2 linked regions of the Homo sapiens genome follow. The protein of the gene in region 2 purifies or fractionates together with the protein of the main gene of each other region. This does not show direct contact. Each region holds a gene or a part of one and is shown on either strand. Other genes may lie near its edges.

Evidence for each region. The genes of interacting proteins can lie anywhere in the genome.
Region 1: the proteins of RPAIN (region 2) and UBR7 purify together in Homo sapiens (affinity purification with mass spectrometry; 2 studies listed by BioGRID and IntAct, with this or other methods). This does not show direct contact.

What each region holds. Positions count from the first base shown.
Region 1 is NC_000014.9:93,224,256-93,229,715, reverse strand, and holds the end of UBR7 (putative E3 ubiquitin-protein ligase UBR7), read right to left. Parts: intron 2,774-5,460; coding exon 2,681-2,773; 3' UTR 501-2,680; downstream 1-500. UniProt on the Homo sapiens protein: E3 ubiquitin-protein ligase which is a component of the N-end rule pathway. Recognizes and binds to proteins bearing specific N-terminal residues that are destabilizing according to the N-end rule, leading to their ubiquitination and subsequent degradation.
Region 2 is NC_000017.11:5,415,204-5,424,082, forward strand, and holds the start of RPAIN (RPA-interacting protein), read left to right. Parts: upstream 1-4,978; 5' UTR 4,979-5,007; coding exon 5,008-5,088; intron 5,089-6,092; coding exon 6,093-6,263; intron 6,264-7,565; coding exon 7,566-7,626; intron 7,627-8,879. Other genes in the region: nuclear pore complex protein Nup88, read right to left, coding at 1,310-1,479, 4,151-4,447. UniProt on the Homo sapiens protein: Mediates the import of RPA complex into the nucleus, possibly via some interaction with importin beta.

The DNA of each region.
Region 1 (5,460 bases), on a different chromosome or scaffold from region 2:
CTGGCTATTCACAGGTGCAACCACGGCACTCTATAGCCTCCAACTCCTGGGCTCAAGCAATCCTCCTGCATCAGCCTCCCAAGTAGCTGGGACTACAGGCGTGAACCTCCATGCCCGGCTCTATGCATTTTTTCTTTTTTTTTTTTTTTTGAGACAGTCTCGCTCTGTCGCCCAGGCTGGAGGGCAGTGGCGTGATCTCGGCTCACTGCAAGCTCTGCCTCCCGGGTTCACGCCATTCTCCTGCCTCAGCCTCCCGAGTAGCTGGGACTACAGTCGCCCGCCACCACACCCAGCTAATTCTTTGTATTTTTATTAGAGATGGGGTTTCACCATGTTAGCCAGGATGGTCTCGATCTCCTGACCTCGTGATCTGCCTGCCTCGGCCTCTCAAAGTGCTGGGATTACAGGCGTGAGCCACCGCGCCCTGCCTGCATTTTCTTAAAACCTGCAGAGGGAGGCTGTGTAGACTTAAATATACTAAAAACAATCTGAAAAGCAACTATTTTGTATTGGTTTTATTTAAATTTTACAGAAACCTGATCAGAGTTAAGTATGTAATTATAAGTCCAGTAACAATTTCTACAAAAATGCACATACAATGCCAGAACTCCTTAAAAGCAACTAATATCATATTTGTGTTTTGCATAAAACATGCATTAATATGTTGGCCAAAATCAGTCTCTACAAGAAGAGACAGTCCAATACAGTCAATAAGAAAACTAGTTGTGAACAACAGGTAAAAAAAGAGGTTTCCAGTTAATGTGAAAGAAGGAATAGTACCTTTCATAAAACAAGCCCTTCAGCGCTGAGTTAACTGATCGGTACTATTGTGCTGCACGTAATGTAACACATCACCTCCAAGACTTGGTCCTGATTGGTCATAGGAAGTAAGGGACTTTCTGGTAGTTACATCAGATATTTGAGAAGATTAAAAGTTTTCCGGACATGATGGTATACTAATAGTGCAACCTTGCAAAAAGGGTTCGAAACATTGTCAGACTTGGAAGAGTTCCCCAGCTTGATAAACAACCTCAAAGACACCCCGAGCCTTTGAACGGAGCCCTCTGCACAAGGCCAGCTCAGGGCTCACCAGCATGTCCTGTGGCCACAAGACCTTCCAGCTCCACATACCACCCTTCGTGAGGATCTGCAATTAGGAGCCTGAGTGCCGAAGAACATGGTTGTGCCATTTCTTTGAGGCTTTGACTTTTTATAAGGCCTAGTTCATCTCATCCAGGGATTGGGCACTCGAATGAATACACAGATGCTGGACACATAAGGAGTATTAATATACATGGTGGCCCCACAGCCTGAAATGCTTTTATTAACATACATCAAGGTGTGTCTCCGACTGTCAGGAAAGACCTTGGTCCTCCAGAGGCAGAGAGAAGCTGAGGGTTCTCTATGTATCACAAGGCATTTCCTACATAGACTGAGGGGTGTTAAAGAGATCTCATATCAACTGAAAGGACTTCCCCTCAAATGTGGGGCTCTGTACAACCTTCCATGAGGATCTTCAAAAAAAAGATCTCATAGTCGTTAGGGAAGTGGCGGTGGACATTAACATTATATACACAAAACTCATCATTCGTGCAGCCTCGGGCCTTGTTTGTAATCTCTTCCACAGTCTGTCTCTTCCAAAACAGGGCTCCCTGCCCTGCTTATTTCAAGTAAGCTAAGTCAGGATCTGTTTTCTTTAGCAGATTCAAGGGGGAAAAATAATAATTTATTGGGGTTCTAATAACATTTTCATAACAGAATATCAAAATAGGTCCATTTTTGATATATGCTTATGAATATCCCTGATAATATCAAGAAATCCAGAGGACTTCGTAAACCACCAAGATTTCACAGGGGTGAGACCCGGTCTGTTTTCTAGGCAGCAGAGAAGGGACTAGTATACGGGCAAATGTTCTCCAGGAAGCCCTGTGAGCACTACAGTACTGAAATTCTAATTCTAGTGCCAATAGAATCATGAACGAAAATTTCACTTGAACTGTATTAGTAAAATTCATAACAAAGGCTTGCTTCCTCAACCCTGTCATCTGTTAATCTCTCCGCCTGTGACAGACATCCAGACCAGAAAACCATCAGTCCTGGCTACTCTGGAGGTTGGGCCTAGAGAAAACAAGCCCCAAGATCCTTTCTAAGCTATGACCAAACCTCAGAAAACAGGGACGTGAAAGAAGGAGCAGACCAGGCTTGAGGAAGCTTTGACCCAAGGCACCACGATCATAGGGGCGAGGGGACCTGTAGAGGTTCTAGGTGACGGGAAGAGAGCCTTCCGTGATGCCTGCGGAGGAGGTTCTGGAAGGCAACAGCTCTGTGGCAAAACACACACATCTGGGAGTGAAATAACAGATCATTAAACAAGACACCAATTTGCTTTCTCAAAACAAAATCAAACTTAAAAACTATGCAAATAACCCTGGGTGCACTGGAGTAGGAGTACACTGGAGAAGTCTGTGGAATGAGCTGCATCAGCTGAGTCACAGAGGACGCTGGCTGTGAAGTCAGCATCCACACGGTGGCTACTGCAGCTAAAGAGAATGAAGGGAGCGCGAGGCCTCTCCAAACAGAGGAGGACGGAAAGGGGGCCAAATGTGAACCACACCTCTTTTATTCCAAGAATGGGAAGCGCATTTTCATTGGCTTGAATGAGAAAGCTTCATACTCCACTCTAGCTGCAGTAATACTGCATCCCATCCACTCTTCTTCTCTTTTTTGACTGAAACTCTTCAAAGAACTGCTGAATGTCCTCTCTCTTAACAACCTGTTTTTGAAAAGCAAAGATTATGAAAGAGAACTAAGTAACAGAATCGCAATCCGAGGTCATAGCATTCACAAACAAGTCAAATGATACTGTTAAGAATTATGTTAATGATAACATCTCCATTTTCTATTTTTTTTTTTTTTTTTTTTTGAGATGGAGTGTCGCTCTGTCACCCAGGCTGGAGTGCAGTGGCACGATCTCGGCTCACTGCAAGCTCTGCCTCCCGGGTTAACACCATTCTCCTGCCTCAGCCTCCCGAGTAGCTGGGACTACAGGCGCCCGCCACCAAGCCCGGCTAATTTTTTTTTGTATTTTTAGTAGAGACGGGGTTTCACCGTGTTAGCCAGGATGGTCTCGATCTCCTGACCTCATGATCCGCCTGCCTCGGCCTCCCAAAGTGCTGGGATTACAGGCGTGAGCCACCGTGCCCAGCCTACGCCTGGCTAATTTTTAAATTTTGTGTAGATACGAGGTCTCACTATATTATCCATGCTGGTCTCAAACTTCTGAGCTCAAGTGATCCTCCCGCTTCCTCCCAGAATGCTGGGATTACAGGTGTGAGCCATGACACCCAGCATGTTTATTTTTTACTGAGGTAACACATGCTTATTGTTAAGAAAGAAGGACAGTGAGACAAGGAAAGTGAAGGAAAGAGAAAGAAAAATAGAGCACGTGAATGAATTCGAGCAAAAAGGGAAAGAGATAAAGAGAAAGTAAGAAAGAGGGGTATAAAGTGAAAACTTCCCTCTCATTCCCTAGTAAGTGTGGCTACCATACTCAAAAGAGCAACTTGGAATAATGCTAACTTGGAATAATTTTCTCAGACCAGTAGCTGATACACCAGTTTCATAAGCACCAACAGTAATACTGCTGCTCAACCAGTGAGGAATCCAAACCCCTAACAGATTCAGGATGCAGAGGCTGAACACATCCTGAAATGACTGCAGCTCAAAATTCTAATGTACTTGGCTAAATGGCACGGGAATTTACACTTAACAAAATGCTAATAAATAGGATACTTGCAAGTTGCAAAATGAAGGATCTGTCCCTACCCTGGATTACAAACATTAGCCACAGAAAGCCCGTAAGTAAAAGGAAATATCTCTAGCAAGGATACTGTAGGAGGAGACCTAACAACACACAAATGAGACTGTGCAGCTTTTGGTTTCTGGATATCCTCAAATGGTCACAGCTAACGTGCAGAGTAGAAACGCTAGTGAATAAATACTTGGGTTCAATAACAAATCAGTTTTTTAATTTATTTCAGAAAATGTGTAGTTTCTAAGTTTATTAATTATTATTGCTTTTTAGAGACAGGGTCTCGCTCTGTCACCCAGGCTGGAGTACAGAGGTGTGATGATAGCTCATTGGAGCCTCAAATTCCTGGGCTCAAGCGATCCTCCGATCTCAGCCTCCCAAGTAGCTGGGACCACAGGCACACGTCACCATGCCAGCCTAATTTTTTTTTTTTTTTTTTTTGTAGAGGCGGGGTCTCATCATCTTGCCCAGGCTAGTCTTGAACTCCTGAGCTCAAGCAATCCTCCCACCTTAGCCTCCCAAAGTGCTGGGATTCCAGGCATGAGACACTGCACCCAGTCTAAGTGGTTTTTTTTTTGGTTTTTGTTTTTGTTTTGTTAGATACAAACATTAAATAAAAGGCAGTCCACCATCTAAGAACAGCTAGAACTTATTAACATTATCCCTATGGACAAATACAACCAAAGCAGATAAGCTTTATGGCAACCTGAGGTTTTGTTTCTTTTTCTGTGAAGATCTGGTTAGTAATGTCATGGAACAAACAACAAAAATACCACATTTTTCTGACCTTTTAAATTATCTGGTCAGATAAAAAATTCTCTCCTAAAGACTCCTAAAGAGTGGCGCTAGTGATAACAAGGACCCGGATGTTGAAGATACCTGTGAAGACCTTGAGTAAAAGTCTCCAATGTGCATGAAAAAGAACATGCCTAACTTTTTTCTTTTATGTAATTTTAAGTATATGTTTGTGATAAAATAAAGAAAACCGACCACAAAAGAGTGGAGGTGCAACAGCACCAGCATCAAGAGGGCATGCCTGCACACTATTTGAAACACCTCAAATGTCCATTGACAGTTCAGAGGTTACCACACTGAGGCAGAGTGCCCCATTACACCCATGAACATTCTTAGTTCTAGCACCAAAGAAGCTTGAGTCTGTATTAACCAGAGGATAGTCTCTGCAACAGAAACAAGAATAACTACATTAAGTTTTAAGAACTGTAGGGAAGGCCGGGCGAGGTGGCTCATGCCTGTAATCCCAGCACTTTGGGAGGCCAAGGTGGGCGGATCACAAGGTCAGGAAATCGAGACCATCCTGGCTAACACGGTGAAACCCCGTCTCTACTAAAAATACAAAACATTAGCCGGGCGTGGTGGCGGGTGCCTGTAGTCCAGCTACTTGGGAGGCTGAGGCAGGAGAATGACATGAACCTGGGAGGCACAGGTTGCAGTGAGCCGAGATCACGCCACTGCCCTCCAACCTAGGCGACAGAGCAAGACTCCATCTCAAAAAAAAAAAAAAAAAAAAAAAAGAACTGTAAGGAAGTAGGAATTGTTCTCAGTGATAGTGAAGAAGTCTCTAAAAACTGAGAAAACCACTTAGAAGAAGGCTCTTTTAACTTTACAATTCATTTTGCAGAAAGGCAGCA
Region 2 (8,879 bases):
GAAATGAGGTTTCACCATGTTGCCCAGGGTGGTCTCAAGCTCCTGAGCTCAGGTGATCCACCTGCCTCGGCCTCCCAAAGTGCTGGGATTACAGGTGTGAGCCATCGTGCCTGGCTCCAAATTATAGCATATTTCATACGTATATATACATTTTAGGATGGTTTGACTTAGGATTGATACATATTTATACAGTACAAGTGTTTTCAGATATAGTATCTCATTTGATCTTTTTACTAACCCTGTAAGGAAATTACAAGGGCAGATATTATCAATCCTATTTTTAAAATGAGGAAACAGATTTAGAAGGTAAACAGTTTAAGGGGACTCAACTTATAAGTTGCGGAGCTAAAAGCAGTTTCTACCTTATACAGATGATCCCCAACTTTACAATGGGTTTACCAGTACATAAGCCAACATAAACTGAGGAGCTCCTTACGACTTATGATGGGGTTACCCATCATAATGTTGAAAAATCCTACGTTGAACCATCCTAAATCGGGGATCCTCTGCTGTGTTGTCAGCAATAAATCCATTTTCAACTTACACTGGGTTTATCGGGACATAACCCAATCGTAAGTTGAAAAGCATCTGTACTCTTTTCAGTAGATCTTTCAGATTCACTTTTCTGGATTTGTTGAAAAAGAAATTATATAAAAATAGGCCAGGTGCGGTGGCTCACACCTATAACCCCGGCACTTTGGGAGGCTAAGGTGGGTGGATCACTTGAGGTCAGGAGTTCAAGACCAGCTTGGTCAACATGGTGAAACCCCGTCTCTACTAAAAATACAAAAATTAGCTGGGCATGGTAGCGCTTGCCTGTAATCCCAGTTACTCGGGAGGCTGAGGCAGAAGAATCGCTTGAATCCAGGAGGCGGAGCTTGCAGTGAGCCGAGATTGTGCCACTGCACTCCAGCCTGGGTGACAGAGCAAGACTCCATCTCAAAAAAAAAAAAAAAAAAAAAAGTATATATATATATACACACATACACACACACACACACACATAAAATACTTACACTTCTGGCAAACTTCTGGCTGACAGATAACTGGTTTTACAAAATCTTACTTCTACCTAATCGAAAGAATGGCCTAGCCTCAAATGAGACAGCAACGTGGTACTTCAGGCAGAATAAAGTACAATCAATTACACATATACTATGAACATTGATAACACAGAAGCCAGTCTGCAGACCACGAGGAGTGTTTTAATGTTTTAAGAGTAGTATACTAAACATGCTTAAGAACCACTAGTCTTGAACAATTTTCTGTATATATAATAAATTATACAGATAAATAGTATACAACTTACCTACAATTCACTGTTGATTTTCCACCTTCAAATTCAGAATTCTTCCCCCATCTTTTAGGTAATTCTAATACCATAAGTCCTTTTATTCCTATAAGTGCTACATGATGTTGTGTTGGGCTTAACAAGACTTGATAGATTTCAAACAGGGGTGGATTTATGCAAAGCAATCTCTGAAAATTAGAGCAAACCAGTCAACATAGTTAATTTTAATTTAAATATAGGTGGCAGTTACTTGAAATCACAGTAATACTTAGTTTACTACAATTATAGGATAATAAAACTCTGGATAAGTACTCACACTTGTACCATTAACTCACAAATTTTTTTTTTTTTTTTTGAGACAGAGTCTTGCTGTCACCCAGGCTGGAGTGCAGTGGCAGCCCACTGCAGACTTTACTATGGGGGTTCAAGTGTCCTCCCCACCTCAGCTTCCAGAGGAGCTGGGACTACAGGTGTGCACCATCACTCCCAGCTAATTAAAAAGGTTTTTTTTGTAGAGATGGGGGTTTCGTCATGTTGCCCAGGCTGGTCTGAACACCTGTTCCCGTGCTCACAAGATCCACCTGCCTCCACCTTGGCCTCCTAAAGTGCTGATTATAGGCTACAGCTACCACACCCAGCTTACTCATGCTTGCTTTTAACATCCAAAGTTACAACTCATGATAAGCTGCTTTCTTCCCCATCTCTAAGGTTTTGAGATTTTGGAGGAGTGAAGGTTATTGAGATAGTCACCAATATTTACTGAAAGCTTATAAATTCTGGGCACTCCAGCATTTCTGTATGCTGGACATACAAAAATAAGTAAATAGCCAGGCGTGGTGGCACATGCCTGTAGTCCCAGCTACTTCCAGGCGCTGAGGTGGGAGGATCACTCGACCCCTGACAGTAGAGGCTCCAATGAGCCGTGATCACACCACTGCACTCCAGCCTGGGCAACAGAGAAAGACCCCATTTCAAAAATAAAAAATAAAATACGTTTTTAAAAAATGACAAGGGCAGACCCAGCCCCTGCCTTGGAGCTTACAGTCTAGAAAAGAAGACAGAGGCAGAGTGCCATGGCTCACGGCTGAAATGCCAGCACTTTGGGAGGCCAAGACGGGTGGATCACCTGAGGCCAGGAGTTCCAGATCAGCCTGGTTAACATGGTGAAACCCCGTCTCCACTAAAAATACAAAAAGTAGCCGGGTACGGTGGAGTGGGCCTGTAATCCCAACTACTCAAGAGGCTGAGGCAGGAGAATCGCTTGAATCCATGAGGTGGAGGTTGCAGTTAGCTGAGATTGCACCACTGCACTCCAGCCTGGGCAACAGAGCGAGATCCTGCCTCAAAACAAAACAAAACAAAAACAGCCGGGCGCAGTGGCTCACGCCTGTAATCCCAACACTTTGGGAGGCCAAAGCCAGCAGATCACGAGGTCAGGAGTTCAAGACCAGCCTGGCCAACATGGCGAAACCCCGTCTCTACTAAAAACACAAAAATTAGTCGGGCGTGGTGGCAGATACCTGTAATCCCAGCTACTCGCGGGGGGGGCTGAGGCAGAAGAATCGCTTGAAACTGGAAGGTGGAGGTTGCGGTGAGCCGAGATGGCGCCATTGCACTCCAGCCTGGGCAACAAGAGCGAAACTCCATCTCAAAAAAAAAAAAAAGACACAAAATAATTATAAATAATTAAGTTATGATTATGTCAAATGCTACACAGCAGTATAGAATGTTATTAGAATACTGCGTGCTGCACATTTGGTAATTATTATTATTTTTTGAGACACAGTCTTGCTCTGTTGCCCAGGCTGTAGTGCAGGGGCGTGATCTCAGCTCACTGCAACCTCCTCCTCCCAGGTTCAAGCGATTCTCCTGCCTCAGGCACCTGAGTAGCTGGGATTACAAGGGCGCGCCACTACACCTGGCTAATTTTTGTATTTTTAGTAGAGACGGGGTTTCACCATGTTGGCCAGGCTGGTCTCGAATTCCTGACTTCAGGTGATCCACCTGCCTCTGCCTCCCAGTGTTGGGACTGCAGGCGTGAGCCACCGCGCCCGGCCTTCATAATTCTTTTTAACTGAAATTGGGTAAATAAGTAGACTGTAGACTCCTGCCCTATTTTCAAAACTGCAGAAGCATTGCTAGCGTCTTATTAAAATTAAATCACTTCTCGGTAACAAGAATTGGACCGGGCACACAACAGATGTCATACCTTAGAATGAGTACCAAGCTCTTTTTCATCTTTAAGAGAATCTGTGTATTACAAATAAACATTTCCATAAACCAATATTTGACCACGGCAAGTGTGTAATACTTTCTGGATCACACCCATTTTCACATGCTGTCGGCTAATCAAAAACAAAAATCCCCATTTTGGGTATGGCTTTATTTTCTAAAGCGGGCGTTACGGGGGTAAGAATTAACAGAGACTTCCTCCTCCATGTCAAGCATGAAGCGTGGTGCTTTGAAACCTGCAACCTGACTTGCTGTGCACAACGCAAGAGAAAGTTACGATCTAACCTATTATAAGCGTCACATCAGGAAACAGGTTTCTCTCGACGAAACTAAAAATAGCAACTCCGCCCACTCGTTCTCAACCCCTTTAGCCCGCTTTGTTTTTCTCCAGAGCACTCATCCGTCACTAGTATTTTTATTGAATATTCAATGACCCTTTCCTTCCTCCCAGGCCTCCAGGCCGTAAGCATCGAGAGAGCCTGAGTCCCCGCGACCGCGTATGGCAGCGTCGGAGTCAATCCGCTGGAACGCCTGCCACAAGATGAAAAACAGCCAAGAGGAGCAAGGAACAAAAAAGACTGGTTCCGATCCCGGTGAGGGTCACTTCCAAGATCGGCCTGGCATTACCTGGTACTGGGACAGGGCGGGCTCTTCGCCGCCGCCGCTGGGGCCCCGAAGGCGAACGACTAAGAAGGAGCTGTCTTCTCCGTCCCACAGGAAAAGCTCTCCGCCGAGGCCAAAGACCACGTTTCTCGTCAGCAACTGCGGCGGCGGCGACGAAGGCAACGACGAAGAAGCTGGTTTCTCAGCTTCGGTTGGACTCTGGTTTTTCAGTCCCTCCCGGAGCCGCAAGAACACGACGTGGTTAGGAAGCCAGGTCTGCCACAGCTCGCCGTCGCCCACCGGTCCCTCGGCGGCCGCCATCTTGGCCCAACTGCTCCCCTCACTCCAGTTGCTCAGCCCGCCGCTGAGCACAGCCAATCCGCGGCCGTCCACTCACTGTTTCGGCCAATCACCGAGCAGACGGCCCGGAAGCTCGAGAGGCTCGTGCCAGGTCGGGGGGCGAAGGCGAGGCCAGCCCACCAAGCAGGGGCGTCACCAAGGGAAAGCCAATCACCATTATTTCTGAAGCCCAAGGGGGCGGGACGAGAAGTCAACATAATGGTGGTGCTGCTGGAAATCTAGCACCTGGGGAGAGCCTGAGACTTGTGTATCTAATTGCCTATTGGACACCTCCATCTGGGTAAACCCAGGCATCCAGAACTTTCCCTCAAGACTTACCTCCCTCAGTGCAGGTCGGGCTGGCCTCACGCATTTCGCTTGGATGCCTAAATCTGTCTCCACGTGGGGCCGGTCGATAAAACAACACTTCCCAGAATACGCTGCGATCCATTCGCGGTCTGCACCCGGAAAGTACACCTCCCAGGGGTCTGTGCGCGCCTCCAGGGAACGGGTCTTGTGGCTTTGTCTCCCGCGAAGAGGAGATGGCGGAGTCGTTGAGGTCTCCGCGCCGCTCCCTGTACAAACTGGTGGGCTCGCCGCCTTGGAAAGAGGCTTTCCGGCAGGTGGGTATGGGGTTTGTGCAGTGGTCTACCCTAGATCGTCCCGGTGACCGCCGTCTTCCCTGCCTTCGCCTTAGCCCTGCTCCGTGGAGCAGGTGCCGCAGCGCGCCTGGTCTGGTCAAACCCAGGCCTGCTGACTGTAGAGTGTGGGATTAGCCCGGGTCGGTCAAGTCCTAGAAAGCCTTGTTTTTGGATTCGATTTTGTTTTGAATTTAAATTGTGGTCAGGACATCACCGTTTGCACCTCTGCAATAACACTACCTACTGTTGCTGCGGAGGTGGCCACCGAGAGAGGCACTTTGTCTACGTTCGTCTTGTGAGATAGAGATGATTTCTATTCTAGAGAGTAGTAAAATGAGGCTTAGAAGAGGGCTCCACCTCAGTTCTGGCCTCTTCTGAACACAGTGTGGTTATTAGTAAGTAATGTCCAAGAAAGTAACCCGACGCAAGAAAGATAGCAGATACAGCAGAGTTTCTCAGCCTTGACAATGGACATTTTGAGGGAGATATTTATATGTTGTGGAGGGTTGTTTAAGCCACGTCTCGGGCCTCCACCCACTAGATGCTAATAGTCCTATAACTAGAATTGTGACAACCAGAAATGTCTCCAAGCATTGCCAAATGTTCCTTGGGGGACAAAACCTCCCTGAGTTCAGAAACGCTGCTGTGCAGGAAGGCCGTTACCCAGCCATATCTAGAGTAGCAAGAATTTGGAAGGAATATAAATGTTCTGTAATAGGACATTGGATGCTGAGATATTATGCACACAACCATTAAGGAAACTGGCAAGCTAGAATAAAAAATATGGTTCTTTGTAAATACGTGTACAAAGCATTGTAATTTTATGTATCTCTACAGAGGAATATGCAAAAGTAACACTAGTTAGTATTATCATTGAAATTTTGTGTCTATAAACTTTCTTTAATGTTTTCTCAACTAATGTAAGAGTGTTTTTTAAAAATAGAAATGCTTTTTTTTTCCCCCCCAATCTTGCTCTTTTTTCCCAGAGATGCCTGGAGAGAATGAGAAACAGCCGGGACAGGCTCCTAAACAGGTACCGCCAGGCTGGAAGCAGTGGGCCAGGGAATTCTCAGAACAGCTTTCTAGTTCAAGAGGTGATGGAAGAAGAGTGGAATGCTTTGCAGTCAGTGGAGAATTGTCCAGAAGACTTGGCTCAGGTCAGGCTGGGCTATGTGTTTTCAGGGAGGGGGACTGCACCACCAAGAACGGCTCGTGTCCTCTTTTATTTGTTTACTTGAGTCCTCTAAACCCACCATTCCCCTAACCCCATTTAGAATTCAACAGCCTTTAACCCAGGCTTTTCTACACTTAATGTTAGACTTGTCTAGATGAAATGGTCTGAAATACCAGACCGTAGACCTGCTCATCACTGCAACATCATCATTTATGAAACTAAAAAGAAAGAAATTTCATTTCTTGCCTCCACCCTTGGAAATTATGATTCAGTAGGCATAGGCTAGGAATCTCTTTCTCTCCCTCTCTCTCGCTCTTTTTTTTTTTCTGTCTTGCTCTGTCGCCCAGGCTGGAGTGCAGTGGCAAGATCTCGGCTCACTGCAACCTCCACCTCCTGGGTTCAAACGATTCTCCTGTCTCAGCCTCCCAAGTAGCTGGGATTACAGATGTGTGCCACCATGCCCGGCTAATTTTGTTTCTGTTTTAGCAGGGATGGGGTTTCACCATGTTGGCCAGGCTGGTCTTGAACGCCTGACCTCTAGTGATCTGCCCACGTCAGGAATCTCTTTCTAAAAAGGTCTCCAGAAACTTTCCGATTCTAATCTCAGCCAACGTTGGCAGCCATGTGTGGAAGGGAAAACCATTTATAGTGTATCAGGAAGAACACTGGATTCGAAGTCAGGAGTTCCAGAATTCAAATCCTGGTTTGGCTATTGACTGTTAACTTCAGTTTGCCTCTTTGAGGTTTAGTTTTCACATTTATAAAATGAGAAGATAATGTTTTCAGCATTGTAAGGACTGTGTAAGAAAATGTGGGCAACTGTTTGAAACCATCAACACCCTGTGTAATAATGATGCATTATTCAGTGGCTTTTGTGTGTCCTGCAGTACACCAATGTTTGCCTTATATCACCACAACTAGTACTCACAGTAACCCTCTTAGATAGATTTTATTCCCACTTTACAGAGGCCAAAACTGAGATTTGCAGAGATTAGGAACTTTTCATGTGGTTACGTAGCCTTGGAAGAATATGTACCTAACTGCTACCCTATATCGTCTCTCCAAAATTGGGTACCATTATTTTGTCACTGGATAGTTGGATCATTTGTTGATGGCTTGTCAGCATGACAGCATTACCCCACTGTCAGCATATTCTGCAGGAGGACTGGACTGATTTTGTCCAATAAATCTGGGTTCTTCAAGCCAGCCTCCAAGTATGAATCACTGTGGGGCTTGGTTGGTGATTAATACTTCAAACTTCTGATGCCGCTCCTTTCTCTTCCAGCTGGAGGAGCTGATAGACATGGCTGTGCTGGAGGAAATTCAACAGGAGCTGATCAACCAAGGTAACCCCTAGTGGTAGTCCTTCCTTACCTGTATTTAGCTACTGGAATACTGTGACCTTTCCTCCAATCAGGATTAGTTTATAAGTCCCCTTTGTCTACCTCCATCAGTCAAGTGTCCAAAAGACTCCTTTTGTACTCTGACATCTTGGCTGTCTAGCTTCTCAATAATAAGGGTCTCCAGGGTGCTAGACCTTGTGCTAAGAACTTCTCATTTAATGATGCTGTTTTCTCCATGTGACTGCCCTGTAAGATAGTAGTATTAGAACAGAAGGTGGTTGGTGTTCTCGTGCAGGTCATACAGCTAGTAAGTGGAGGAGATGGGAAGCAAAATCAGTTGTATGAATCCAGTTCCCATGTTTCTTCTACCATCCTGCCTCTCTATTAATGGGTTAATAGTTCACTGAGGGTGGTGGCTTATGCCTGTAATCCCAGCATTTTGAGAGGCTGAGGCAGGAGTATTGCTTGAGGCCAGTTCAAGACCAGCATGGGCAACATAACAAGATCCTGTCTCTACAGAAGTAAAAAAAAAAAAAAAAAAATTATCTGGGTGTGGTAGCAAATACTTGTAGCCTCCCTCAGCCAGAAGGCTTAGGCAGGAGGATCACTTGAACCCAAGAGTTTAAGGTTACAGTGAGCTATAATTTTACCACCTCACTCCAGCCTGGCTGACAGAGGGAGACCCTGTCACTTTAAAAAATAAAATAAAAAAAAGTAAACCTGCCATTTTACAGGATACAGTGATAGTGCATGGTCTGATCCCTTGCCCTATTCATTTTAAGTGCCACATTCTCTATTAACTCCCCAGGGCCTGTGAGCATCCACTCCTTGAGGGAGGTGTCCATAGCATGGTGTAGAGAGCATAATTTTGTACCTTATATAGTTAAGTCATTTATTCCATGTAGCCCTGATTTGATTAGGCCTTGTTTGGTTTTTGTTTTTGTTTTTTTTGAGACAGGGTCTCTGCCCAGGCTGGAATGCAGTGGCGTGATCACGGCCCACTGCAGCCTTGACCTCCTGGGCTTAAGCGATCTTCCCACCTCAGCCTTCTGAATAGCTGGGATCATAGGCGTGTGCCACCACCCCTGGCTAATTTTTTTTTATTAATTTTTTTTTTTTAGCTAAAGATGATAAAAACAAGACAAAAAATTATTTTATTTATGTATTTTTTTTTTTTTTGAGATAGGTTCTTGCTCTGTTGCCCAGGCTGGAGTGCAGTGATGTAATCATGGCTCACTGTGGCTTCATCCTCCTAG